4 separate regions of the Homo sapiens genome follow, and all the other regions are linked to region 3. Evidence: fine-mapped expression QTL. A gene starts in region 3. Each other region holds a variant in brackets. All regions are shown on one strand. Distances are between the middles of the regions.

Region 1 (7,340 bases), 110 kb before region 3:
GCAGCCTGCTCGTCACTACCGGCTGGGACGCAGGGGCACCCATCCCTTGGAACACAGCGGTGTCCAGGACACAGACCTGCCTGCCATGGGGTCCTATCCCAGTCACCATCAGTGGGCCCAGCCAACACTCCCCCACACCCTCACTGGGCTCCACGTAACCCGTGTCAGACCCAGAAGCCCACCTGCAGCCGTAGAACACTGTCAGCTGTCAGTGCCCATCATGCAGAGAGCAGGTTGGCTGAGCCAAGGCTCAGTGACAGGGCCATGGTGGGTTACAGCTCACAAGGGGTAGCAAGGGACCCAGGGTGGTCCCAGCACCATAGAGGAAACATCACTGTGACACCCGCGACTCTGAATGCAGTGGTGTGAAGGCCTGAGACCCTGAAGAGGTGTGCTTCCCCCAGCTGATCCTAACAGTAGCTCCACCAAGGCAGCCACCTGGCGCCTGGGGCTCCTCATGCCATTCAACCCAGCTGGGCCGTGCCCTGCCATGGCCGCCATGCAAGGGTAGGGACATGTGTCTGGACTCTGGTAAGGGGTTCTCCAGGACATCTTAGCACTTTGGTCCAATAGAGAAAGTTAATGGAAACAAAACAAACCCTCCCAAAAAGGGGAGGTGGAGGCATGGCTGCTGTGGATCAGGTTCTCAGGGCAAGCAAGGCCTGGCACACCTCCCTGCAAAACAGCACAAGCTCTTTCTCAAGACAGAGGGAAGGAGGAGGTTACGAAGGTCAGCTCTGGCTTCAGAACCCATCGCAGAAACAGGCTGCAGGAGTTGCATGCGCTTTCCCTGCCCACCACTTCCTAAACCACTCCCTAAACCACTGGTGCGTGCTTCCTAAACCACTCCCTGCCCACCGTGCCCATGCTGGTGTGCGCTTCCTAAACCACTCCCTGCCGCAGTGCTCAGGTCTCAGGTGGGAGGACAGTTGTCCTCCCTTGGTGGGGAGAGAGAGGGTCTCCATTGGTGCAAGATCTGCATCTGTCAGGCAAAAGCATAAACTTGTTACAGTTGCATTTGGAAGTTCAAGTATTGTTGAAGGGTATCCTGGGTAGACCACATTCGTCAGCAAGCTTTGGACTCTCAGCTTCAAAGCCACCTGTATACATTTTGTGAGGTAGCTGGAATTCAACAAGCCCCACTTTCATTTGCCAGGAAACTCCTTGTGACGCTCGTATGAACAAGGCACACTGAAGAGCACAGGAGGCTGAGGCCGGGGGGCCTTGTCCATCTAGTCTGCCTCCTTCCACACCGTGCCCACAATTGATGCCCCTCAGAGGGAGCCACATGGCCTTGATGAGTAGGGCTCTGTCCCAAGTCTGAGCCCCAGCTCTGCAACCCTCCTCCCTCCAAGCGTCTGGGTCTTAAGAACCCCAAACTGAGACCCAGGGCTAGCAACTGCTCCCTGAAGTCACTGACTCTCCATGACACGGTGGGCCCCTTTTGGCTTTGCATCTCCAAGGCCTGTTGAGCCAACCTGATGCCATGTTTCCTGTGAGACACAGGCCAGTGCCAGCTCTCCCAGACCATGGTGCCTTCCAATGCCACTGCACAATCCCTGCAGGAACTCCTATGTGCTCATTGAATCATTATGGGCAGGAATGAGATGCTTCTGATGCCTCTTCATGTTGAATTCTCACTGCACAGAGGGTGTGCACTGTGGCAGGCAGGAAGAGGAGCTTGCACGTCAGGGATGGTGCTGTACACATTGTATATAGAACACCCTGAAAAAGCTCAGGTATTTGAGTCACTTGTTTGTCACTTATGAGAGGAAAATCCTGACGGTCCTTACCAAGGCAAGGACTGAGAAGATCAACTGGCCTTATCAACAATGGGCAGGTGCGGTGGCTCATGCCTGTAATCCCACCACTATGGAAGGCTGAGGCAGGAGGATGGCTCTAGGCCAGGAGTTCAAGACCAGCCTGGGCAACACAGCGAGATCCTGTCTCTACAAAATATTTAAAAACTAGCCAGGCATGGTGGTGTGCATTTGAAGTCCTAGCTTCTCAGCATGCTGAGGCAATAGGATTGCTTGAACCCAGAAGTTCAAGGCTGTAGTGAGCCATGATCATGCCAACGTACCCCAGCCTGGGCAACGGAGTGAGACCCTGTCTTAAAAACAAACAAACAAACAAACAAACAAACAAAAACCTACTACAGGATTGATGCCAAAAAAATGTTAAACAAAACCAAAAATGGTGGGCAGGAAGCACAGCTAAGACCCGTCCTGGCTAGTCTCAACCCTCCAATGAGATGAGACTGCAATGCTGATCTGCCTGGTTACCCGCTCCAGGCTCCACCTGCAGTGCCTGGTGCACACCCAGCTGGAGGGCGCCAGGCCAGCAGCCATGGGGCAGAGCCTGGACACCGCCCTTGCAGAGGGGCCTGGTGAGCCAGGGGTGCTGCCAAGAGGAGACTGCAGGCACATGGGATGGAGTCTATGGCTATTGAGCTCCAGTGTTTCTACAAATAATGATCTAAAACAACTACAGTTCTCACTGAACCATTTCATATTCCAAAAAAGATGAAGCCATTTAAGTCTTAGCAATTATATAAAACCCTTATGTTTATAGCCTTCAGTTAGATTTTCTGTGACATATTTAAAGACAATTACAAAACATATCTAAATTAAATAATTTTTAAAATATTAGTTTATGATGTTACACAGTAACTGCTCAACAACTCACCTTCCCCTCCCTAAACCAGGAGAGGATTCGAGACTGCCTGGCTCCACACGCCCAGGCCCAGCCTCTCTCTTGGCATATGCTGAAGGGTTTTGAATCCGTGTTCTAGTTTGACCTGCTTGCCTTGTTTGTGGACTCCGGACACCATTAATTAATCGATCTGCAGTGAAGTTAAATATTGAAGGACTTTCTAATAACCCAGGTCCCCTCTCTGCACTAGGAATCGCATGCCGCAGATGAGATTTACTAGGATTCCTGTAAATAAAAATGGTTTTATGTGTTGAGTTATAAAATGATCAAGGCATTACATAACATGCATACTGACATGGAATAGCTAAGCTGAAATCTGCTCTCTGTTTAATAAAGTATAAAAATAGGATTTGGAATGGTTAACTCCTAACATATAGGATAATGCAAATCTATTAACAATGTGCCACAATTCTGCTTAGCTGTTTTTCAGTCCAGGCCCAAATTAAAATCAGGCACACCTGATGTGTACAAGTTGCCCCAAAGCCTCCTCTCAGAGAATCTGAGGCGGGCACCCATGCCAGATTGTAGTGCTTAGTCTTTACAGAATGCAGCTGTGTGCTTCAGGTGGCTCTGTCTGCGAGGAGCAGGACTAGTGATCAAAGCTCTCTCATCCCAACTCCGGAAGGGCAGTAGCGTAAAGACCAAAACTGCTAAGACCGCCCCGGAACTTGCCTGCTTCGAGGAGGATACTGTCTGAGAGAAGTCAGAGGAGACGCCGCAGGCTTGAACGCTGGAGACGTAAACCCATTTATAAATCCAGTATTTGGAAATGGAGTTACCTAGATTCATTTGAAAACAGACAAGTAAATAAACCATAAAACAGACTTCAATTTCATTAATACCAACAAATCTGTGGAAACTGAGGGCATTTCTTGATGTTGTCAGAGTCATGACCCATGCTGAGACATGTATTTTACAATTTTATCACCAATGGGTGCTGTTTAGAAGTAGGCTGGAGCTTTTGTGCATCCTTTCAGCCAATCCTTACAACAATCCAGCGAGGAGAACTGACACATGCGGAAGCAGGCACTGAGAGGAAAGACGTGGTCAAGAGCGCATGGGCTCCAACAAGTGTTGTAACCTTTAGCATGTCAGTCTGATACGACCTCCATCACTGGCAGGAAGTCAACAGTTCTTGATTCCTGATGGCTTTAATACAACTCATCAACATTCTCAATCTTAGGAGCACCTGCACACCCACTGCTGCTCACTCGGCTTCATCCAACCACAGCCTGACAGGGCCTTTACCTTTACCCCGACACAAGTCCTGCTCTGCAGATCAGGGTATTTTCAGATCATCATTATTCCCCAAGTCACAAGGTAAGTATGGCATGCAAATATACTAACATAAGATTCAGAAGAAATTAGAAAGGGTCACAGAACCCCTAAAAGATCTTAAGTAGTTAAAAATATTGAGCATAGAATTTTAAGTATCGGCCAACTATTTTTAAAATCTAGACACATACAAAAATAAGATAAAACTTATTGTTAAAACAGTTCCTTTAAAAACAAACAAACAAACAAAACTCAAGACCATTCATTCTAATTCTCTGGCTTCTGGACCCATGGTTTCCAATACGTTCTGCATCACTGATATCTCGCTCCTTATGCTCCTGACACAGGGCACTTAGTTCCTGAGGGCCTTCCAGTCCACACCCTCAATGTCACTAAAGTGACAGAGATACGCATAGAGCCCTCCTTGTTTGGAGGAA[G/A]AGAGAAAGGAAAGGAAAAAAGCAAGTAATTCTCCTTAATTAGAGCTAACTGGAAGATATAACAGAAAAAGAATATTATAGCTTAGGACTAAAATAAAATCATACAAAAGGGAAGTTAGAATCTTCAATTTGCTACTTGAGAAACTCTTCACTCTGTAAGAATCGGACTTTTTAAAATACATCACACATGGCCGGGCGCAGTGGCTCATGCCTATAACCCCAGCACTTTGGGAGGCCAAGGGGGGGCGGATCAAAAGGTCAGGAGATCAAGACCATCCTGGCTAACATGGTGAAACCCCGTCTCTACTAAAAATACAAAAAAATTATCCGGGCGTAGTGGCGGGCGCCTGTAGTCCCAGCTACTCAAGAGGCTGAGGCAGGAGAATGGCGTGAACCCGGGAGGCGGAGCTTGCAGTGAGCCAAGATCCGGCCACTGCACTCCAGCCTGGGCGACAGAGAGAGACTCTGTCTCAAAGAAAAAGAAAATACATCACACTTGAAGAGCCATGAATGCAGACCTGGATCTGAGGCTGTAAATCATGGGCAGAGCAATGAGGACTAATCATTTCCAGCAAGTCATTTTACAGACAGAGCCCTGATATTCCAGTAATTTTGCTCAAGATAAAAAATAAAATTGGTCATATATAAAAAATAAAGTTGATTATTAATGCGTTCCTATTATTACTTGTTGGGGATTAATAGGCACAATCTCTTCAGCTGCAGAACAAAGGACGCACATGTTTTAGCACAAGTAAAAGGCTGCGATGGAGAGCCCCAGTATCACAGACTCAGAGCAGGACCAGCTGTCTGGCACACACCGCAACCTGAACATACAACATAAGTCAAGGCCATAAGCTGACCCAGAACCCCAAGGATCCCCGAGAGGGTCAACCATGATTAAAGAAACGGAAGAAGCAACTGCTGCAGGAAGAACTGAAAGGACTAGCATGGCAAGCCACGTGCAGCGATGATTCTTCAACACCCAGAGCCTACGGACTCAAGTCTCTCTGAGGTTCTCTCATGATATGCTTTTGGGAAAACGAAGTATTCAGCTATGGGTACACTTTTATAGAATGTGCTACTTCAAAAAGCCAGAAACTTTTCTTACCATCAGGACTTACTCAAAAGAGACAGAAGTAACTTTACCAAAGGTTCTTACACTGCGGTGGTTCCAGACTCAGGGGGAATTGGGGTCCTCTGAAAATCTCTCCCTGTCCCCACCTGCCCTTCACACGGCCTTAGGAGCTATTTTCTAAATGGAGTATGGTTTCATTTCTCCGCTTAGAAACCTCAGACACCTTCCCACAAGCACTAGGCCAAAGCCCACATGCCTCAGGACAGCTAAGCACCTGCGCAGTTAGGCCTGGAAACTGCCAGCTCGTTCCCCAACTCCCTGCCACCCGGTGTACGCTTCAGCTCAGACACCCATGAATCTACGACCATCTTCTGTTCATGAAACTTCTCTTTGATTCCTTCTGAAAAACTCATACTTAACCTGAAAAGCTCAACCTAGATGACAACACAATCCCTGATAAGACCTGTCAGTGTTCTGGCATTCTGTACACGTGTCTCCTTGGCATGTTTGACTTTTCCAGCCTGAGTTGTTTCATGGACCCGTATCTTTACTTTCCGTGTATACAGGCACTTGTTTTCTCAAGTTCTCTCTGCTCTGCACCTACCCTCCTTTTCTGCCTGTCAGCGGTGACATCCCTGCACATCAGGGTGCCTGGCTCCCAGCCATCCGACCCTGAGGACCACTCAGTCTTTCCCTTAGTCCACAGCGAAACCCTGGACATGAACTCTTCTCAAAGTTACTAACTCAATTTCTGCTTTCTGACCATAACCTTCTATGTATGCTACCCTTCAATCTCTCCAATTCCAACTAACCTGCATTGCTACCTCATGCAAACCTCTAGGCCATGAACCCATCTTCACTTCTCAACTAGACTTCAGCTTCAAGGACATGCTCATCCGTGTATTGCTGACTCTCGTGCATCCAATGCCACCAAACTCATGCTAATTCCCACCCAGAATGCACTTGATCTTTCAAGCATCTATAGCAGCACACAAAGAGACAATGTCTAGATCCAGTACAGACTTATGAATTCCAACCATAGGCCTTAACAAAGGCCAAAATCCATAAAAATTAATCCTGTCGACCAACTCTAATGCTGGTGAGAAGTGAGTAAAATAAGGCTGGTAAAACAGCAGGCCTTCTCCTTGGCCTTGCTGTCAGAAGCCTATTAAACACCTCTTCCTCCTCAGTTAATCCCCCTTGCATTGTACTCTGTGTAGGGGACGCCAGGTACACTACAGCACTTATCGCCCTCTGCGTCTTGCTAAGAGCTGCATGACAAGAGGGGAGACGGGCTGTGCAAGGATTGTGCTCACAGCAATCCAAAGTTCTTTATGCATAAGCTCTGTTCTCAGCTACATTTAAAATCCCCCACATAACTTGAAGGTCTGTTTTAGTATGTCAGACTGCACACATATCTGGCTTCCTATTAGATGAGGATTTTAATCCTTCAAATTATCTAGCATAGTGTCTACAACATAAATTCCTAGTAAAGAAATGACGTACCAAGGGTGGGTCAAGATAGCTGTGCGTTGCTGACCACGTCTGGGGAGTGATCAGGCTGTACAGGGGGAACTGCTGCTGGGGGCTGTACATGGGAGGGAAGTAGAACGACGTCGCGTAGCGCTGCTGGGCATACAGGCTCACGTCCAGGGGTCTAAATCCATTCTTTGGCAAAAATGTGTTTATAGCTATTGCCTTTGCTTTTATCCGTGCCTGTTTGAAAATATGTAAGTTTCTATTAGAATACTTAAGAACATCAATTTGCAAATAAACAAAGTATAACCAATGGTCTTGCTTACCTTAATTGGTTTTCCTTGAAAAGTTTTGACTTCTTC
Region 2 (7,340 bases), 120 kb before region 3:
CAAACTTGAAATGTAAAAATCATGATTTTTACAGAAATACTATGTTCTTAAAGCATTTAAGATGGTGAGCTCTGCCACCATTTTTTCATGTTTTTTATTTTACATTTAGGTTTGAGGTTTTCATTGTCATCATTAAGTTTCAGTATATTTTCTGCAGTCATCCACAAAAATGGGTCAGTAGCACAAAAGTGTTTCATCAGAACATAAATGTAACATAAATATTAGCTGGAACCATATAAAGTTGCTACTTGCTCACTTTGACCTCTAAAAACAGTAATTTCATCTGGCATGACCAAATACAACTGTAAGTAACATGTATGTTTACAAGCAAAGCTGACTGGGCTCTCCAAGCCACAGGGACAGCAAGATGAAGTTTGCAGGATGCAGCTGGTGACGATCACTCAGGGCATCTCTGAAAGTGGCTCTCCTGCGGCAGGGCCACCCACCCGGGAGGTCACAGCCGGGGTCACACGGAGCTGCAGGGTGGGGCGGGCTCTGCCTCTGCCGCTCCAGTGCGACAGCAGAGCAGCAGGCATGATGTGACACAGATGAGCCCGGCCCTGGCTCCTCAGGGAGGACCCTGTAGACCTACGCCGGGGATGGTGGGTGCCCTGAGGAAGGGTAACCTCCCCAGCAGGTCCCTCCACCAGGCGCCACCCTGAGGTCTCTGGCTGCCAACGGGGCGGGACCGCCTGAGTTTCTAATAGGAAGGATGAGGTCAAAATATGTATCCTGGGCAGTGACAGGCGTTTTTGCAGCAAGGAGAAAACCTCCGAGATGCCTTCCCAGCCTTAGGATACCACAAACCCACTGTCCACAGGGCGGGTTTTGCACAGAAGTACCAGTGTCTCACACCTCAAGCTGTGCCGATTCTCCTCACCCGGGGAAAATGCTTACTTAAATGCTTCTTTACAACTGCTCTTGTCAAGGGTACCATAAAACTCTGTGTTCAGAATCTGGAAGCTGATGGCTTCCCATGGCCTAAGTGGGTGTTGGTGACATCCCCGGCGTGCGGCGTGGCTGGAGCCCCTGAACCCTGGCTGCGGCCACGTCCTCCTGTCACTTTGGGCTCCTCTGGCTAAAAGAGGAACCCTGCCTCTCCTCTCCCGGGCTCCTCTCTCCCCGCCTCTCCAGCTTGCAGTGTCAACACCACGAACCCACGTGAGCTCCACCCTGGGCTTGCTCTATGTTGATGGTTTCTTTCCCGCCCTCCCCCGTCTCCCAGGTGGCCGGGGGCTCTTCCCATCCCTCCTGACCTTTCCCTCTAGGTTTACTTCCTATGAGGCAGCTCCAGAGCCTCGGAGGGGCGGCTGGAGGTCGAGGGCGCGTGGGGGGCCTGGAGGGTGCAGGGGACGCCGAGGGCGCGGGGCCCAACCTCCGGCCAGCCGCCTGGATTCTGGTCTCTGCTCTGAGCGAGGTGCGTGGGTGCCTCCCTGCTTTTGAGCGGGGATGCAAAGGACCCCCGGGCTGCTGCGCGGAAAAAGGCGGACGGGGATCCAGGGCGCAAGCAGGGATGGAGGGAGAGGCCGACACAGACGGCGGCAGGTGTGCGTGGTGAGGCCGCCCCACGCAGGGATGGGAGGGGCGCGCAAGCCGGGACTTGAACCTGCACTGGCTGAGCTGTGGACGCGGCCTGGCGGCCTCTGCGGAGCGCCCTCTGCGGAGCTGCCTCTGGCACCTGTCCACAGCGTCTGGACACCGGGCGAGGAATGGACCCGGAAGCGTCCCCTGCCCAGGGGGTGCTGCAGGTACCCAGGGGAAGAGCATTCACGGGTGCCAGGCCCAAGGGGCTCACGCCAGAAGTAGACCAATTAGACGACTACAAACGGTGCTCAGTGCTGCAGAAGCAGCCGGGGACAGGCGGCTGTCGGAGAGGGCGCCAGGCATCTCTGGGAAGGGAGAAACAAATTCCACGGGAAGGGGCCAGCAGGTCCCAGGCAGCATGGGCAGAGAGTGTGGGGTCAGGGATGAAGTTGCAGGTGGGTTGGGGAGTGACTTGCAGGCGCGCGTCTAAACCTTATTTCTTCCTGCAGGAAACCATTGGAGCGTTTAAAGCAAGGGAACAGGGCGCGCTCACTACCACAAAAGAACCCTCGGGCTAGGTGGAGAACGGGGCAGGGAGACTGGCGACGAGATGGCCGGGCTGGACTCTCGGAAGGATCTGGGGAAGAACCAAGACTGGCCCAGGATTTGGGCTTGCCTGTCTGCGTCGGGGCTGCCCGTGGAGATGGGGTTCCGGTGAGGAGCAGGAGGATCCAGGCCGGAGGGTGGGTGGTCCCATCTGAAATGTGGACTGACTGCAGGTGGCCACGCCAAGGACACAGTGAGACATGGGCTGGAGGCTGAGCAGGCTGGGGCTGAGGAGCTCGAATGTACTGAGTGGACGTATTAGTTACCCCTTCTTTCTTAATGGCCCCAATTTTGTTCAGGGACCCCTCTCTCCAGTCACCATGCACCTTGGGGGAGGTGGCCCCACTCCTGAGCCCAGGATGGACCTCACTGACCTGAAAGCCCCTTCCCCGTGACGGCGTTTGGATCCTAAATCTAGCCAGTAAGATGTGCAATTTACTGGCAACTTGTTTCCTTATTCCCAAAGCCACACAAAAAGAAACTCGTCTCCCCACCCCCACCCCGAGGTTAAGATGTCTGGCTGCAACACTCCCAGCTGCCGCACACTCCTGCTGCCTGCCAAGGACGCTGCCACCACGGTGGCCCGGCCCGACAGCAGCATGGAGCTCTGCCTTCCTCTGCAGGGGACAGTACATTGCACCTGCCCCCGGGCCCAG[G/A]CTGCGGCCTCTGTGCTTCCAGGCTGATGGATTTCAGCTGGCATGGAAAGTGCGGCATTGCACGAAGTAGAAAGGTGTGGGCCTGGAAGAAACTACCCAGTAGCAAAGGGCAGACACTGAAGAGGGCACTGCCCCCACTGGCCTCAGGAAACGGGAGGCGCAGCAGCAGGAGAAGGTCAACTGGGAGCTGAGAGCACGAGAGGACTGAGAATTGGCAAATTACAATCTCCAGGAAGGCAAAGAGAAAAAAGAAACAGAGCAGCAGGGAAGAGAAAGGGCAGATGTAATTGGTCCATACGCAACAGTTAGAAGACTGAGGCTGGCAGAGTGGATTACAAACACCCACCACTCCGTGCTGTCCACAGACAACTCCCTTCAGACAGGGCACAGGCGGGCTAAAAGTCAAAGGATGAAAAACGGCACGTTACACCGACAGGAGTGAAAAAGAAAGAGCTGGAATGCCTTTGTTACTGTCAAAACTTCAGAGCAAAGACAATTACTTGGGTCCAGGGTCCTAATGACAGATCAGTCCAACGAGAAGACACGGTGATCCTAAATGTGCATGCGTGGAGTATGTCCCGTTAGGACAGGGGTGAGGAACAGGCTGCGGCTGCCCACACTTGTAAGCGCCCCACATTTCTGCACGCGTAGCTAACGTTAGAGAGAGTCTTTCTATACACTCACATCCTATGTAGTAAACACAGTGAGCTTCGGCTGGGAAAAGCGGCTGCTCCGGCCGAGGAAATCCTGGTCGTGAATGAAAATGCATCTCTGTGGGCCCTCACAGGCCCACGCAGAGGTGAATGAATTTGGCTGTCTTCTGCATCTGCATCTCCTGGACGCTCACTGATCTGCCCCAGGGCCTGGTGGTTGCTGTCCCAGCTTGGTCCTGCAAGCCCCTCTGGGTGGAGCTGCTCACCCCGTGCTCCGGGGCTCACGCCTGCAGGGAGGCCCAGCCTGTATCAGGATCCTCTTCACAACCTCCTGACCCCACCGGGCGGCCCTGCGGCCCTCCAGCTCCACCAGGGCAGGGCTAAGCCTCTCCGGCTGGCCTGGCATATATGCTCCGAGACATCACACACTTGGATATGGCCTGGGCTGACATAAGTTCCATAAGCACCTGAAGGCTGGTGCACGAGGGTCTCTGGCTAAGCCACTGCACGCTTAGGCTGTGCCCTTCCTTCCTGGCCTATGGTCTCACCTGCTGTCCCTCCTCTCCGTGGTGGAGACACCCACACACCTTCGTCTAAGCAGACCAGCAGTTGACTTGGATCGGAAACGGCTTGTGCCCAAGCAGGCCCAGCAACACACGTGGTCCTTCTTCAGTTGGTTCAATCCAATGCTTTAGAGAAACACGGGATTTTAGCATTATTAAAAGATGTGGATATAGCAAGGAATGGAATACAACAACTTCAGACTTTGGTGGGTGGAGGCGGAATACGTAAACCTCTGACAGCCATGAGGAGACCGAGCCCTGGCTCTCTTGTGGGACCTGCTGACCCCAGCAGAGCCCTGCAGACAATCCACAGATACACGGTGGTCACTTCCATCCAGGGAGTTCTGGCAGGGTTTGTTATGTGGCAACAGCAAGTCAATACCTCATCCTAGTTCTTCCCAGGGCAGTGCTGTGCACAGAGAAGACACAAAATATACTTCGAGTTAATACACATTTACCGAGTATCTGCTAATTTGCAGATGGCGTGCTAAGGACAAGGGAGAGGCTGGTGATCCAGATGGCATAATTCCTGCCCTCAGGGAGCACAGTTAATCATACTTTGATGAGTTCTATGAAGGAAATTCTCAGCAACACAGGATGACGGGTGAGTTAAATGCTATGGTGTTAGGACAGAAAGGGAAATAGGCAGTGTAGAATAGAGACCCTAGAGACCCCAGGTGGAGATCCATGCACACGTGGGAAGTCTGCAAGTAACAGAAGCAGCACTGCAGACCAGTGGAGAGACAGTGAACTCACTGGTGATACTGGAAAAAGAAACTTTCCACATGGCATAAAGTAAAACTGGGTTCCTGCCTAAGCACGCACACCACACACACGATTAGGCCCAGCTGGATTAAAAGCGTGTGTGTGTGTGTGTGCGTGTGCACGCACACACACACACACACGCACACATACACACACACTATTAACTTTATGACCCTGGAGTAGGGAAAGGCTTCTTAAGCAAGTCCAAGACACTCAACAAAGGAGAAGATTGATAGATTTTACTACACAATAATTAAACACCGTAAAAGATACTATTCTAAATAAAGAGTTAAGACAAATGGTAGATTGAAAGAAAATATTTGTAACATATATGACAAAGGATTAATAGCCTTAACAGATCAAGAATATTAATTCCATCAGAAAAAGAGTAAAAATGGGAAGACGACATGAAAAGGCAATGCACAGAGGAGGAAGGCAGCAACATGTTAATCAGTCCCCCATCCACTCGGTGCCTGGCACAGGAGGGGCCCCGCCTCCCGCCAGCCTCTTCCTAGTGCAGACATCACTGCTGCCTAAGGATGAGTCCATCACCATGAAGACCCAACGTTAGCTCCAAACAGCTTCATGGACACAGCTTTGGAGAGAGTGCCATTTTAACAAAATCAAAGTCCTGATACAGGAACATGTATTTTTGCAGTACATCTTGGCAGTCACAGTAATGGCTGTCTCCGCATGAGCATCTGATGTTAATGCTCACTCTGAACCACTAAAACACAAAGGGTGAGCCCCGTGTGCCACAGCCAGCCCCCACGTAGGTGAGAAGGCTTTAGGATCCAATCATATATGAGGCCCGTGTTTCTTTCTCATGCACTTATGGGAACAGACAAAAAACTATGTTTAGAAAAGATGCATTATTGAAGAAATTTTAATTTAAAAAAAATCAAAAGAAAAATTGAACAGTGCCTAAATCTTTATTTTCATAACCTACATTTTTTTTCAAATTAGACAGTTTTACACTGAATGACACAAAAGGAAACTTAAATTACCAATAGTTTACATGTAAGCTTGATTCCAGTCTTAATGAAGCAGAACAAAAACGAAACCCTCGAGGAGCGACCACATGACCCCCGCGCTGTGAGCTGCTGGCGGCCAGCGCCCTCGCCTCGATTGTCTGCAGCCCTGTAGTGGGCCGCGAGGCACGCAAGCCGCAACTACAGCTCGCCAGCGGGGCACACAGACAGGCATGCACCACCACTACCCGTCGCCCGGATACACTGAACTGGTTTTGAAGCCTGAACTGCAGAGATCCTAATATAGCAACGCAGGACGTTTACGGCCACCCGCCAGTGACAGCCGGTGATGTGATGACAGGAGGGCCTGGGTGAAAATGTCAAGACACTCACTCTCAGAGAACGACGACTCCACTTGAAATTCATGTCTGGTGAAACGGGACCAGGTTTTTATTCTTCTATTTCAAAATGATAAGCATCATCACACGATTTTACAAGTTAAAATGCCATTTGTCACTGCTGCATCTCTGATTCTATAACCTGAGATACTGCTGGGGGTAAAGGAGGGTGTTAACTTAAAAAAAAAAAAAGTATGAAAGCCACTCTCATCGCTGTATGTGACACAGCACAGTTGGCATGGACCGCCACAGCTTCCTATTATGATAACTCTCATTTTCTTCTGAGCAGAAACTCTTGAAGTAGTATCAGGTTTTTTCAGACATTATATAGCAATCTGTATTTCACCTTTAATTAAAAAGGATGCTATAAAAATCACCTCCGAGCAACGTTTCAGTTCTTGATGCAGAAGACTGCTGCTGGCTAGGCAGTAACTACAGTGTATTGACCGGAGGGCAGCAGAGCCCTCCAGTGGCGACTGGCTAATGCACGCGCTGCCCTCCTCATGCAGCTGTTGAGCTCCCACTTCGGTCGACAAAGTGAAGGACTAAGCTGGCTCTAACCACACACACACACTGCGCTGCAATGCTCACACCTTGGGGGAAAGGACTTCTCATTATTAAAAACCAAGGACTCACTGGCGGACGGGCAGGCCTTGTGTTTTGGGAATGGCTGATGGCGCCCTGGCCCTTCCGTAGCGAAGATGCAGCTCGTAGGCCCAGGCCTCGAGGTTGCCTCCCAGCTTTCTGAGTATTGAGAGTTTGGGTTTCACAGATCAATTATTTCTGATTTTTTTTTTTTTTTTGGTCAGTGAACTGACAACTACAAAAAAAAATCCCCATGTTCTTTAAAATGCATTTGAAAAACACTAGCCCTGTGGCTATTTCTCTGTATTTGAATAATGGCAACTGCTTTAAAGGAAATGGTCAAATAGGCATGTTTTCCTCTGGCAGGGTCAATCATGCTTAGCTGCAGGTGATTTAAATTAGATTACTAGTCACCTTCACTTACGATCCTGCCAGTTTTTGCTCTCTATATACTTTAAAACTCTTTCACATTAGATATGATTAGTATGCATTTACATACATTTTAAAAGAGTATGAAAACATCTGGAGGCTTTTAATAAGACTTTCCAATTCCCTTTTGCAGCAAAGAGGCAGAATCAGTTCAACACACCGATGTAAGAGAAAAAAGAAAATCTCAACA
Region 3 (7,340 bases):
ACTAAGATTAGAAGACCTAGATTATAATCCTAGCTATCACTATTTTGACGGAAAATATGAATTTTAACATGACAATGAAATAACAGTGAAAGGAGTTTGTCAGCCACTCCTTGGCTGGTAACATCTACCATAGCCTATCACTACAAAAACTTGCAAATCTATGTAGAGTAGCTGCAGCTACCTGAAGGCACTGTTCATTGTAAACACCATTAACAATTTGATGTCCCAATTTGCATGTTTTGGGGGTGGGGGGAGACAAGGTCTCACTGTTGTCCAGGATGGAGTGCAGTGGCAGGATCATGGCTCACTGCAGCCTCAACCTCCCAAGCTCAAGCGATCTTCCCACTTCAGCTTCTCCAACAGCTGGACTACAGGTGTGAGCCACCATGCCTGGCTAATTTTTTGATTTTTTGGTAGAGATGAGGTCTCTCTATGTTGCCCAGGCTGGTGAACTCCTGGGCTCCTAAACTCACCTAGGCCTCCCAAAGTGCTGGGATTACAGGAATGAGCCACCTCACCCAGCCTGCACGTATTTTAGAACTACATTTTAAGATAATGTGAAGACTGCTTCATAAAAACACCTTAAATATATACTTGTCAAAACTTGTGCTTACTTATGGAAATTGCATTAAATTCAATAAATTCTTTAAATCTCACTTTTAAAAATGGCAATCTTCCCGAACATTAAACCAAATTACATTTCTCCCTGAATTTGCTGCCACTTAATTTCAGCTACTCTTCTACAGAATAGTACCCATGTTATCTTTTTTTCTGTCTGGTTCCTACTCAAAAAGAGTGGAACTGCTTTCTCCAAATATGCATTCTGTGCTCAGAAGCTGTTTTCTCTGCCCAGATACATGTGTAAACAAGCCAAAAAAAACAAAACAAAAAAACAAAAACAAAAACAAAACTTTCTGCTAATAGATTGACAGCTACAAGGTAGAATATTTTAAAAATTCAGTAAGCTGGGCGCAGTGGCTCACTCCTGTAATCCCAACACTTTGAGAGGCCAAGGCAGGTGGATCACTTGAGGCCAGGAGTTCGAGACCAGCCTGGGCAACATGCTGAAACCCCGTCTCTACTAAAAATACAAAAATTAGCCAGGTGTGGTGGCATGTGCCTGTAAATCCCAGCTACTCGGGGGGCTGAGGCAGGAGAATAACTTGAAGACCTAGGAGGTGGAGGTTGTAGTGAGTTGAGATCGTGTCACTGCACTCCATCCTGGGTGACAGAACAAGACTCCAACTCGGGGGGGGAAGAAAAAAATCAGTAATAGTGAAAATAGCAAAACCAGACAACATTTCCATGTTTGTGTTACAACAGTCCTAAGAAAATGAGATTATCATCATCCCCCTGTTACAATTGAGAAAATGTAGGCAACACGAGGGTAACTTCTAATGAATAAGCCATGCCTTTGTTTCATATAAATAAGTCAACTCAACTCACATTAACTTTTCAAAATACCGGATAAAATTTATTTCTAACCAATGCAAGTTTCAAAGATAAGTACACAAATTAAATTTATGATTAAATAATAAGCTTGTTAATCTGATGCCTTTCGGAACGCATTTCACTTAGCAAACCTCAATTAAGCTATTTCTTATATGGTTTGATTACAAAACTGCCTTTCAGCATATTAAATACAAGGAGAAAAAACTGAAAAGCCACAACGATTTCAACTTCTGTAAATTACCCTGACTGTAATGAGGGGCGCCAGGCAGGTTGGGGAAGTATGGAAATTGCACACTGCACACACCACCTGACCACCAAGAAAAAAGAGGACACCACTCTTCCCCACTGTGGTCTTCACAAACTACAACTCAGCACCTATTTCAAGTGCATTTAAATATTCAAACAACTGAAACTAAGAGAAAAAAACTTTCGAAAGGGAAAATAACTTGTCTGTCCCCTTCAATGTTCACCTTGGAGTTGCTCTCATCTCTAGAAAAAGGCCTCACGCATACTGTTTATACTTACAAACTCCACTGCCCTGTCAAGGAAAACCTTCCTGTTTTCTCAGTTATCCAAAACTTCAAACTTCCAATTTACTATTAAGACAAGTTATTGGGCATCCACTTAGAGAATCTCAAACGAAAGCCAGATAGGAGGTAGTTTTCTACAGCTAGGTTTCTCAAGTTTCATCTCAGCCAAGTTTTAAGAACGTTTTACGTAAAAATAAGGGGAAAAGCAAAATTACATTCGCATGAAGTTTCGACGCACAACGGCACTGAAACGGAAAGACTCTTCACGTTCCCAAGCGCACCCTGAGAGGCAGGTGCAGCAGCTTTCCGATGGCTTCTCTGCCGCCCATGTATCCCAGCCCCAAGACCAACACAGGCAATCTTCACATCTGACTTTATTTTTTTAACTCCTTCAGATCCACCTCTGCTCAAGTCTATCAACAGGAAAACAGGAGCGTTCCAAACACACACCGAGCAACAGGATCCCAACTTCCTGGTTCTAAAGGAATGCGATGCCCTGATGACCCGTCCCGCCCCGCACCCGCACGGCCGCCTATCCGGGCTCCGGCGGGACCGAGGAGCGAGTGGCAAGGCTGGCGCCGCACTGCGGGTGCCGGCGCCCGCCCGGCCTGGGGGCGCTCGCGGCCCGCGACCCCGGCCCCGCCCAGGCCCTGCCCGACCCCCGTCCTCGCCGGCCTTCGCCCAACCCCGGCCTCCCGACCCTGACCCCGGCCCGGTCTTCCGGGCACCCAGCTCCGTCGACTCCCGCCTCGCCTCAACGGGTCCTCCTAAGCCCCGGCCCCGGCCTTCCCCTGCCCCGGCCTCGGCCATCCTCAGCCCCAGTTTTCCCCTGCCCCGGCCCCGGTCCTCCTCAGCCCCGGCTTTTTCCTGGCCCTGACCCCGGTCCTCCTCAGCCCTGGCCCTTCCCGTGCCCTAGCCCCGGTCCTCCTCAACCCGGCCCCGGCCTTCCCCTGCCCCGGCCCCGGCCCCGGCCCAGGCCCGGCCCTGCCCGCCGCGGCCGCGTCCTCCGGGAAGATGGCGGCGCAGTGACAGGCGGCGCGGCGCGGGTCCGAGCTGGGCCGGGAGGGACGGCCCGCCGCGGCCCAGGGTGCCTCACCTGTCAGCGCCGCCGCCCCGCCCGACCGGCCGCCCGCGGGCTCCTCGCCTCAACCCCGGGGCCCGGCGGCCGCGCCACACGCGGGGACGGCGAGGAGAGAGACGGCAGGGAGAGGCGGCGCGGCCGGGCCGGGCCGGGCCGGAGGTAGGGGAGAGGGCGGGCGCGAGCTGGCGGCGGCGGCGGCGGCGGATTCTTCCCCTTTCGGGCCCGAAAATGTCTCAACCCCGGGACTCCAGATCCCCAACGCTCCTTCCCGTTCGCATGAGAACACACAGCTCCCACTTCCGGGGCCCTGCGGAAGTCCCGCCCCCGCGCGGACCCGCGCCTCGCGCCCTGAACTCGCGCACTCACCCGCCGGTCCCGCGGACTGGCGCTCAGCCCCGGGAGAGCCTCACGTCATGGTGTTGCGGCGCGCTGATTGGGCGCACCCGACGCTCGGCCCGCCCCGCCGCCTTCTTGGCCTCTCCGCGCGTACACCCTGCTCGCGGCCTTGCGATTGGCGCGTGCGCGCACATCGCCCCGCCCCGCGCACGCCGCACGTCCGCCCCGCCCGCCCCGCCCGCCCCGCCCGCCGTCCCCGGCGCGACCGGAGCGCCTGACGCTGGGGGGCCGTGTGGGCCCTGACTTCCGGAGGGCTGGGCCCTGGTCCTCCGCCACCGCGTGCGCCCCTTAAAGACCCCTGCCCGCCGCCCAGGACGGATGGCGACCCCGGCCCTAGCCTGTCCCCAGACCCTGGACCAAGGCCCCGGCCCTGCCCCGAACCCCTCATCCCACCCCCAGGACCCAGGCCCCGACCCTGGCCACCCAGGACACGCCCTGGCCCTTCCCCGAACTCCCACCCCACAGCTGGGATCAAGGTCCCGGCCCTGCCCGGAACACCTCACCCCACACCCGGGACCCAGGCCCCGGCCCTGCCCCGAACTCCCACCCCACACCCGGGACCAAGGCCCCGGCCCTGCCCCGAACCCCTCACCCCACCCCCGGGACCAAGGCCCCGGCCCTGCCCAGAACTCCCACCCCACACCCGGGACCAAGGCCCCGGCCCTGCCCAGAACTCCCACCCCACACCCGGGACCAAGGCCCCGGCCCTGCCCCGAAGGCCCCACCGGGGACCCAGGCCCCGGCCCTGCCCCAAACTCCCACCCCACACCCGGGACCAAGGCCCCGGCCCTGCCCCGAACGCCCCACCCGGGACCCAGGCCCCGGCCCTGCCCCAAACTCCCACCCCACACCCGGGACCAAGGCCCCGGCACTGCCCCGAACGCCCCACCAGGGACCCAGGCCCCAGCCCTGTCCCGAACTCCCGCCCCACACCTGAGACGAAGGTCCCGGCCCCGAAGTCCCAACCCCACACCCGGGACCAAGGCCCCGGCACTGCCCCGAACCCCCGCCCCACACCCCTAACCAAGGCCTCGGCTCAGCCCCGGAATCCCCAACCCCACACCTGGGATCAAGGCCCCGGCCCTTCCCCAAACCCCCAACCCACACCCGGGACCAAAAGGCCCCGGCCCCACGTTTCCTAGAGGCGCTGGGTTCGGGCCCACGTTGCAACGAGTCAGATGCTCTTGGTAGCTCAGGGAGGTGTTCACACTCCTGCCGTTTCCGTGAGGATGGTGACGACTCCGAACTATAGCAGCATACTCTACCTACCCCTGATCAGTTTATGGAAGAAAAGGAAACCAAACAAAGTATGTTGCGTTTCCCTTAAGCTTGCTGCCTGATTTTCTGGTTTCTGCTCTGATTGGCTACATATACACATATTATCAATTATTCCAAATTTTAGGTTTGTTCCCCCATTAAAACGGCTTTTCAGGGATACCATATTCATGGTTAACCGTGTACCTGTGCTTACAACTGCTTTTTTAATTTTGTTTTTTGATACAGGGTCTTGCTCTATGCAGGTCTGCACTCTGAGCTCAGAGTGCTGTCTCGGGCCCCCAAAATCTGGGATTAGAGATGGGAGCCGGTGTACCCAGCCTGTGCTTATAATTTTTCGTACTCAGCGTTCAAATGCTGACAATTCTGCATTTTGGAAGAAAGCCTCTCCGGCTTCCCATAGTGGGTAGACTGTTGACATCAAGGTTGGGTGCCTTCTTTGTGAAACCTTGTTGCATCCTAGCTTTAAGGGAATTTGCAAGTTAAATAATTATATTCATAGTAATGTTTTTAAAGAACATTTAACGACATAAGACACATTTCCTTTAATATTAAAAGCATGTACATATTTCAGAAAACTTGCTTACCTGGACAACCTGCCCTGACCAGTAGGCCATAGTGTCCTTGCTTAGGTGCCTGGTTCCTTTACCTCCACGGATAACCTACAGGAGCTTACTCTTGGTTCATAACATTGCTAGGGCCATTGATGTGGTATAAGTCTAGGAATTCTGCCCCAAAATTGGTAGGTTAAACTTTTTTTTTTTTTTGAGACTGACTCTCCCTCTGTCACCCCGGCTGGAGTGCCGTGGCATAATCTCGGCTCACTGCAACCTCAGTCTCCCGGGTTCAAGTGATTCTCCTGCCTCAGCCTCCGGAGTAGCTGAGACTACAGCCGCATGCCACCACGCCCAGCTAATTTTTTGTATTTTTAGTAGAGATGGGGTTTCACCGTGTTAGCCAGAATGGTCTTGATCTCCTGACCTCGTGATCCGCCTGCCTCAGCCTCCCTAAGTGCTGGGATTACAGGCGTGAGCCACCGTTCCCGGCTGGTAGGTTAAACTTCAATCTTTTTTGTCTATGTCTACATTCCAGCAGACATCTATGTCTTACCTATTACAAAAGAAAGTAATGGGATGGGTTCAGTGGCTCATGCCTGTAATCCCAGCACTTTAGGAGGCCAAGGCAGGCAGATCGCCCAAGGCCAAGAGTTCAAGACCAGTCTGGGCAATATGTCAAAGCCCCATTTCTTTAAAAAATTATACAAAAGTAGCCGGGCATGTGGTGCATGGCTGTGGTTCCAGCTACTCAGGAGGCTGAGGTGGGAGGATCGCTTGAGGTTGAGGCTGCAGTGAGCTGTGATTGTGCCACCGCATTCCAGCCTGGGTGACAGAGCGAGACCCTGTCTCAAAAAAAGAAAAAGAAAAAAACTAAAACTAAAAGAATTCCATCTCTTCTTTCTCTTCGTATTGTGTAATCCTTTCCAACAATCAGAACTGGGCTTTTTGTTCCCTCATGATCTTCTTTTTTTCAAACCTGTGTCTCAGAAGAAACATCCATTTTCACCTTGAGATGTGAGGTTATAACATGAAATACATTTTCATGGCATCTCTCCTTAGACAAGATCAGTTTTTTAAAACTTTAGTATAAATTTCTCAAACCATGATCAGATACACTCCCTCATTTCCCATGTCAAGTGGTTACAAATTCTGTCAATCCTACCTAAAAACTCTTTCCTTCTCCCCGTCCCCCCAGTGGTTTTGCCGTTGTTACTGCTCACCTGGTTTGATTCAGTGGCGTCGCGGTTGGTCTCTGCTACAGTCCATTACTCACAGTGCCAGCACATGTTTCCTTAAAAAGCTTCATCACCATCCTCCTGCAATGCGACCTTCACCGGCTCCCCGTTGCCTGCCCAGGAGGATAAAGTCCAAGTTCTCCTGTGGAAAGAAGACCCTTCACACGCTAGTCCCAGCCTGTCTTCAGCCCAGCCCCCTGTGTTTCCTTTCCTGCCTTATCCTAAGACATCCTTACCTTCCAATCACACTCACTTTCCGAGCATTTTTGAAGGTATTGAGGGAGTTGATGAGTCTACACTTGAATAAAATACAGACTTTACACTCCAGACTGCACAGTTGACAGGTAAGTCCACAGTTCATAGTGTGGACAGTCCTATACAAAGAAATGGAGAGGTGCCCCAGCTCCAGACGCTGCGCTGCTCTGGAAGTCGAGGGCGGCATTCTTTTGGAGCCTGAGCACTTAGGTCCTAATGGATGTGAGTCCCCTGGCCTCAAATGTGCTTCCTGTACTTGGATGTCTCCTTCTGGCGGAATCTCGCTTATTTTTCAAGTTACAGCCCAAATGTCAACCACTGAAGTGTTTTAGACAGTTGATTTTCCTTCTGGGCCCTATTATTAGCACTTGTTTGTAGCTCTGTTGAGCTACATCACATCATACAATTTTCAGCTGACACTACTGTCATCCCAAAGAAATGGTCAGGCCTCAAGGGCAGAGGCAGCGAGGGCAGTGATCTTGGGACAAAGTCTCTACCAAACAAATACAGCATGTGTATTTCTCTAGCAGAGGCCTACATTTCAAGTGGTGTCTGAGAA
Region 4 (7,340 bases), 88 kb before region 3:
TAATTTGGGCACAAGATCTAAACATAAGATGAGGCCAGGCATGGTGGCTCACACCTGTAATCTCAGGACTTTGGGAGACTGAAGTGGGCAGATCACTTCAGGTCAGAAGTTTGAGACCAGCCCTGCCAATGTGGTAAAACCTCGTCTCTACTAAAAGTACAAAAAATTAGCTGGGCGTGGTGGTGCACGCTTGTAATGCCCAGCTACTTGGGAGGCTGAGGTAGGAGAATTGCTTCAACACAGGAGGCAGAGTTGCGATGAGCTGAGATGACACCACTGCACTCCAGCCTTGGCGACAGAGTGAGATTCCATCTCAAAAATAAATAAATTCATTCGTCCATTCAACTTAATTTAAAAAAAAAGTAAGATGAGAACTTTGCTCCTGCGGACCTATTTATGACATTTTCATCCTCTTAAGAGCTACAATGAATGCAATAACTTGCTAACTATATTCTTGTCACATAGGTTCTTACAAAGGCATGTACATTTCTGTCCAAAAATCGAGTGAAAAAAGACAAAATGAGAAACTAAAGAGCTCAGTGCAAATGGATAAAAGTTAAGTCATAAAAAAGGCGGGAGGAGATGGGACGAAATAGGTGACAAGCCTGCCCTGGATCGCCTATGGGCAGGTGGGCTCTGTTAAGCAAGCACACAGAGCAATTTAATATCCTCATGGTTGGTGGAAACGACCCCTTGCCAGTAACAATCAACTGAGAAATCATCCCAGTGGGGCAGCAGCGTTTGCAAGGTCTGTCCGAAAAGGAATAACTAAACCTGAAACTCCTAATCATAACCAAAAAGACTTCAGAGTACAAACAGGGACAAGAATGCTGCTGGCCTTTCAAAGATGGGGCCCAATTCAGCTGGCACAGACAACAGCTTCTGTTCTGCATGATGACACCAGGGAGCACGGCGCCATCCTGGGAGACAGCAGTGCCGCTCTCAGAACTCACAGTCAATGGTAATTATGTTTGTCAGTTTTTTCACTGTCTCCAATAATTTAATAACCCATGCTATTTGTCTAAAAACAGAAAAACATAAAACTTTTATTTTATATTTTATTTGTGAAAAGAAAATCCAACTAAGTTCTCATGTAAGATGCTCACTTTTTTATACTACTGTAAAGTCAAATTCATACAAGAAAAAAAAAAAACCTGCACAGACTGTCGTCAGTACAGATAAGCCAGGGACAACGTGAAAACCCTTCTATGTGAGTATAGGCAGTGGACTTAATTGAGACTTGAAGTCAGGCTTAGCAATGTCCAATCACTCAAAACTATGTAGGGGCACCATCCACACTTAATGCTTAAACACTGTTTGATGTTGCCAAACTTCAAAGAAACAACTTCACTCACAACATAATTTTTTTTTTTTTTTATGAGATGGAGTCTATCTCTGTCGCCAGGCTGGAGTGCAATGGCACAATCTCAGCTAACTGCAACCTCCGCCTCCTGGGTTCAAGTGATTTCCCTGCCTCAGCCTCTCAAGTACCTGGGATTACAAGCACACACCACCACGCCCAGCTAATTTTTTGTATTTTAGTGGAGACAGGGTTTCACCATGTTGGCCAAGACAGTCTCAATCTCCTGACCTCATGATCCGCCCAACTCGACCTCCAAAAGTGCTGGGATTACACGCGTAAGCCACCACACCTGGCCCACAACATAATTTTAAGAAAAATTGCAATAATTATTTCATCCGAACATAAACAGGAAGTTGCAATTTGAAAGAAAAACCTCTAGTGGTAAAACTGTAACTAAAGTGTATTTTACTTTAACTATAAATGTTATTTTTATTTTGTTTTTCATGAATGAAACAGCTATCTTTAAAATCCCCATTAACAAGATTCTTTTCTACTTCATATGTCCCAAAACTTGTTTGAGGTTTCATAACGGGTTCAACTGGCATTCCCAGGGACTATCAGGCGCTACTCCAGAATTATTGGACCTGGGCAGAAAGGAACGGAAGGCCAGAAAAGAATCTGATTCGCCATCAAGGACCTTAACGTTTGATGGCTATAGATTTAAAGGTTCATGCTGATAAGACAAATACTCTAAGGACAAGTATTATTAATTTAAATTGTCATTTACTTACATCTTAGCACTTCCACAATCAAGTCCACATCAGTGCTGAGCTTCTTGATGTGGTCGAGGTTAGCCACCGTTGTGATTGGCACATACTGGTCACTATCCATCTGTGATATAAGATACATGTCACTAGCAAGGTTCTCCCTGTTGAAAGAAAACAATCTCTTTTAATCAGTATTTCTTTAAAAGGAAGTTTCACCTACTGTAATTCCAGTTTCACAAGAGGCGTGAGTGTGGCATGGTATTGCTTTGGAGTTAAATCTCAGCCCAGGACCCATCTGTTATTTGCTGTCTCTCCAGCCTCAGGTACATTTTTGCAAAATCTCGGCCTTGGAGAGGCAGGGAGTGCAAAAGTAAAAGTATACTGTACTTTCTACAATCAAAATTTATGAGAAGATGGTTATTTTTAAATAAGATGTAATTATTTATAGCTGTCATTTTTGTCCTAAGAAGTAGCTTAAGAGTTTATTAAAAATGCATACAATTTTGTTAGGCCGGGCACGGTGGCTCACGCCTGGAATCCCAGCACTTTGGGGGGCCAAGGTAGGCAGATCATCTGGGTTCAGGAGTTTAAGACCAGCCTGACCAACATGGTGAAACCCCATCTCTACTAAAAATACAAAAATTAGCCAGGCATGGTGGCGGGCACCTGTAATCCCAGCTACTCGGGAGGCTCAGGCAGGAGAATCGCTTGAACCCGAGAGGTGGAGGTTACAGTGAGCCAAGATCACACCACTGCACTCTAGCCTGGGCGACAAGAGTGAAACTCTGACTCAAAAAAAAAGAAAGAAAAACAATTTAAAGTAAAGAAATCCAGCTCAATGAACAAGAAAGGAAAACATAAAAAGGCCAGGATAAGGTCATACCCAAAATTCCTCCTGTAGACTCTGGAACACTCACCAGAGGGCCTATATCCAGCCCTGGCTTCCTAGCAGCCAGAATTAAAAAGAAGGAAACAGTAACTTTACCCACAAAATCCAAAGGTGAGCCACAAATCATCAGCAGTTTGGGCCATGATGAGCTATTTTCTGGTGTTTTGGCCAAAGATCAATGTTTCCTGTGAATTCTCAAGGCATCATGTAATGTAGTGAACAAGGCCCTAAGAAACATTTCAAAACTGAGCACAGTGCTGGGTTCCTGGGGCCTCTGCTCAGTGTCCCTCGGTGAAGGCCCATGACTGCCGATCAAACGGAGGCCATGCAGGAGGAGGCCCTGCTCCACCCTCATCTCGGCCATCTTCCAGGTGTAGCTGATTCTGGCCCCATGGGGCTACACATGGATGTGAGTGGCAGAGAGCTCACACTTGTGCTCCACTAGGGCGTTCCACTGGTGCCCCTGCACCTTTTGCGTCTACCATGTCATGGTGCGGTATTCTCAGACTCCAATCGTGGAACAGCATGGGCATGGGGAGGAGGCCAGCAGAGCCCCTCACACCTCCACCTCATACACCCCACAGGCTTCAAGGAGCCCCTAGCAGACACCTGTGTGGAATCCTCAGGGCTCCAGAGAAAACACCTGGAAAATCATCATCGACAGAAAACCTTATACACGGCCCATCGGTTGTTGTCATACTCAGAGAAATTACATCAAACCCAATCCCATCCTCCTTTATGTCCAGTTCTGCCATTGGAACTTTAAAGGTTTTACTAAGAAAAGGGTATTATTCAGGGGAAAGAAAAATGATTAAAAATGAGTGTTATATAAATAAAACAACTTGCT[A/G]TCTCAGTGTCTGGTGTGCTTTCAGAAACAACGTGGCACACTTGTTCTCCAACTTCAGTGTGAGGAAGTCTGACTCGGCAGCACAGGGCGGGCGGGGCACTTTAGACGCATTCCAGACAGTGACCACCGAGACCACTGGGGACCACAGACATGAAGGTTACGTTCCATGCTCAAATGTCAAAAGACTGTCATTACTCAATATTCCACGTCTTCATATACATATATATGGATATGAGTAGATACTCCTTCATAAAATATCACATTTGTATATACTTTAACTATTTGCACAATACTAGAAATATCAGGTACTAGAAAAACCACCACCAGCCTTACCTAGATAAGCAGAATTCCAATGTTTTTTTAAGTACTTCTCGGGGGTCTTCCTGGCTGTCTGGTTGAGACTCATTTCCTCCTACATAAAAGTAATAATCAACTTAGGAAAACCGGCTTAAAATTTAGGAAGCAGATAATTCAGTACAGCAGTTCTAATGCTTTCAACTTACGTTCTGACACAACTACGTAAGTGTATCCTAAGTAAGAAAAATGCTACTTTACCTATCAAAAAAGTAAATCATGCAAAAAAACCTATCCCTTTATCCCCCAAAACAAAAACAGCACAGTTTAGAAAAATAATCTAAGTCTCATTAGCAGAGTTCAGCAGGGGCTTTTTCTACCAGAAATGACAAGTGTAAGCTTAGTTAATGCCTTGTCTCACTGCAAAAAGAATTTTCAAGTAACCTACACAAACACAAACCCTAAACAATAATAAAATACAGAGGAAAAAATTAAAACAACAACAACAAAGATAACCAGCAAAAAACCAAGGCTGGAGATCAAACAGGCTCTAGGACTAGACAGTTTCTACAACAGAGGCTTCAATTTGCCTTCCAACTTCCAGAGTCGAAGGAACAAGTGAGAATTGTCATGTTACAGAATTCCTGTAAGAGAATGATAAATAAACCAGATCTTCAAGAGGAAACAAAAGCTGGTTCTAAATCCTGGAAGAAATTTCTAAGAAGATGCCAGAGGGCATGGTGTGTGTGGTCACAGGCAGCACAGGGCTGTGAATTTGGAGCTCTAGAAGACACTGCATAAACTGCTGGACTCCGGACACTGCATAAAGAGGTATTTTAATAATGTTGCGATGACAGGCACTGAAATGCTAAGAACTAAGTTTTTCCTGCCTTCCTATATAAATTAGCATGGTACAATCATATAAGAGCCATGCTAACACAAGAGACACTTGTATCTTAAAAGTCAAAGTTAAAGACCATGAAAAGGCAAAGACAAAGTGGGGCGTTCAGGACAAATGAGAGGGATAGAGAGTTTGTATGGTGTTATACAATGAGCTTAGTAAAAATCCACCCCCATCAGCAAAAAGAAACCAAAACTGCTAAAGTAACCATAACACAAAACCAAATCATGGGACTCAATGAGACTGAAAATGGAAAATTGAAAACACAACCTGATGCCACTGTCCATCTAGACTAAGGTGTCTCCGGGTCACTCATCTAAATTCACACTCCACTCCCCATGTTTAATAGGTATTTACTAAATATTTCCAAGTGCCAGGCACTACTGCAGGCTCTGTGAATTCAGCCTGAATAACGCAAAGCCTGTGCTCTCGTGAAGCCAACACTCTGGTGGGAGAGGCAGATAACAGACAGTTAACCAGTAACTATACACATCATGTCAGAGAGAAACGGACACTGAGGAAACAACCCAGGATGAGGGGCAGCAAGGCCTGGTGCCATCCAGACAGGAAGTGCCATATGATCTGATAGAGGAGGGGTGGGGCACACAGGAAGGTGGGAAGTGTGTTCTAAATGGGGAGCCTCAAGCACAGGGGTCCCAAGGTGGGGCCTCTCAAGGGGTAGAGTCCAGCAGTAGGAGGCCAGCACAGCTGAGAAGAGGGGTGACAGACACAGTAAGAAATGAGGTCACAGAGGCCGGTGTGTGTGAGTGAGATCAAGGAGGACGTTAAAGTAACCTAAACGTAATAGAAAATCAATTCAAGGCTGACATTTTGAAAATATCTCTCTGGTTCCATGGTGTAGACAGACTGTGCAGGCACCAGCCGGAAGATAATGCAATCACTGAGGACAGGGCACTAGGGAGGACTCTCCAAGCGATAGGTGGTGCCGAAGCCACAAGGGAAGGAAGAAAAGCAGCCCAGGACTGAACCCGGGACACTCCCACCTTCAGCAGGAGGCAAGCGCATGAGGGCCAAGGGACACAGGCTCACAGCCAGCAAGGTGGGAAGACCACTAGGATACTGTGAAGTTAGGAGCCAAGAGAATCATCCACTATAACATGACACAGTAGAGCCAGGTAAGTTAAGAAGTTGAAACTAACTACTAGATCTGGCTGCACCAGGGTCATTAAAGAGCTCGACAAATGCTGCTTAGGACAACTGTCTACCTGGACTGGACTCAAGAGGGAATGGAAGCAAGGAGACCTGGACTGCACTCAAGAGGGAATGGAAGCAAGGAGATGGGACAGCAAGCAGACAGCTGAAGTGTTCTACAGTGGAAGATGGGCTGCCCGGGGTGGCTTCACCTAAGATGAGAGATAATACCACCTTAGAAAGATGGGGAGTGACCCAACCATGCAAGAAACACCCGGCACTGCAGACAGAGGACACTGAGGAGCAAAGACAATGACAAGTGAGACGGGCTCTCAGGGAGACTGGAGGTTGGGCACATGGTGTTGGTAAGACACAGGCCATCTGCCTCCAGGTAGATGGAGTCACAGGGGCTAGGTTAACTTTCCCTTTAAAACCACCAAGAAACCAAATAAGACAGATGAAATGACAGTTTTCCAGATGTGGGACATAGAGCAACAAAGGACATAGATTCCTATGTGACATGAAACTTTTTTCTTTTTTTTTTTTGAGACGGAGCCTTGCTCTGTCACCCAGACTGGAGTGCAGTAGCGCGATCTTGCAACCTTGGCTCACTGCAACCTCCACCTCCCGGGTTCAAGTGATTCTCCTACCTCAGCCTCCTGAGTAGCGGGGATTACAGGCGCACACCACCAGGCCCAGCTAATTTTTTTTGGTATTTTTAGTAGAGACAGGGTTTCACCATGTTGGTCAGGCTGGTCTCGAACTCCTGCCCTCGTGATCTGCCCACCTCAGCCTCCCAAAGTGCTGGGATTCCAGGCGTGAGCCACCGTGCCCAGCTTGACATGAGACATTAAAGTAACCCCCACAAGTCCAGCCCACTGCCCTGAGGGAAGTCCCAGGCTGTGCCCAGGGAGTGGGAAGTCAGGTGGGAACCCAGTGTATGGCTGTGTGGAAGAGAAAAAGAGAATGCAGGAGATAGGGAGGCTGATTGCATAGGCCAGACAGCAGGAGGAGCTCCAGAGAACCACAGGGCCCAGGACCCATCACGTTGTCAGCCAGGTTCTTTGCAAAGCACGGATGTGATGAAACTACCCAAGGCTCGTGGAAGAACCACCTGAGGGGATCAGAAGTATAACAATATATGTCATTCACGTGCAGAGCCTGAAATGGTTAACCCTCCCCACCAG

Evidence for each region.
Region 1: its variant is fine-mapped to the expression of LARP4B in whole blood (TOPMed, PIP above 0.99).
Region 2: its variant is fine-mapped to the expression of LARP4B in whole blood (TOPMed, PIP above 0.99).
Region 4: its variant is fine-mapped to the expression of LARP4B in whole blood (TOPMed, PIP above 0.99).

What each region holds. Positions count from the first base shown.
Region 1 is chr10:822,377-829,716 of GRCh38, forward strand. LARP4B (La ribonucleoprotein 4B) reads right to left here. Exons shown (of 18, transcript NM_015155.3): 10 at 7,305-7,340; 11 at 7,009-7,218; 12 at 3,388-3,494; 13 at 2,689-2,940. Among named protein-coding and RNA genes, the nearest start is that of LARP4B, 110 kb to the right of the region's middle. The variant G/A (reference allele first, on the strand shown) is at 4,428.
Region 2 is chr10:803,862-811,201 of GRCh38, forward strand. LARP4B (La ribonucleoprotein 4B) reads right to left here. Exons shown (of 18, transcript NM_015155.3): 18 at 5,636-7,340. Among named protein-coding and RNA genes, the nearest start is that of DIP2C, 120 kb to the left of the region's middle. RefSeq lists enhancers at 5,433-5,933, 5,934-6,434 and a silencer at 5,491-5,696. The variant G/A (reference allele first, on the strand shown) is at 2,787.
Region 3 is chr10:928,350-935,689 of GRCh38, forward strand. It overlaps LARP4B (La ribonucleoprotein 4B), which reads right to left and starts at 3,356. Exons shown (of 18, transcript NM_015155.3): 1 at 3,079-3,356. LOC124902363 (keratinocyte proline-rich protein-like) reads left to right here and starts at 3,642. Exons shown (of 2, transcript XM_047426111.1): 1 at 3,642-4,766; 2 at 6,487-7,340. The coding sequence starts at 3,778. The coding sequence ends at 4,482. It overlaps LARP4B-DT (LARP4B divergent transcript), which reads left to right and starts at 4,677. Exons shown (of 3, transcript NR_120629.1): 1 at 4,677-4,766. RefSeq lists silencers at 2,547-2,676, 2,767-2,846, 2,877-2,986, 3,057-3,766, 3,847-3,936.
Region 4 is chr10:840,838-848,177 of GRCh38, forward strand. It overlaps LARP4B (La ribonucleoprotein 4B), which reads right to left. Exons shown (of 18, transcript NM_015155.3): 6 at 4,140-4,218; 7 at 2,095-2,231. Among named protein-coding and RNA genes, the nearest start is that of LARP4B, 87 kb to the right of the region's middle. The variant A/G (reference allele first, on the strand shown) is at 3,807.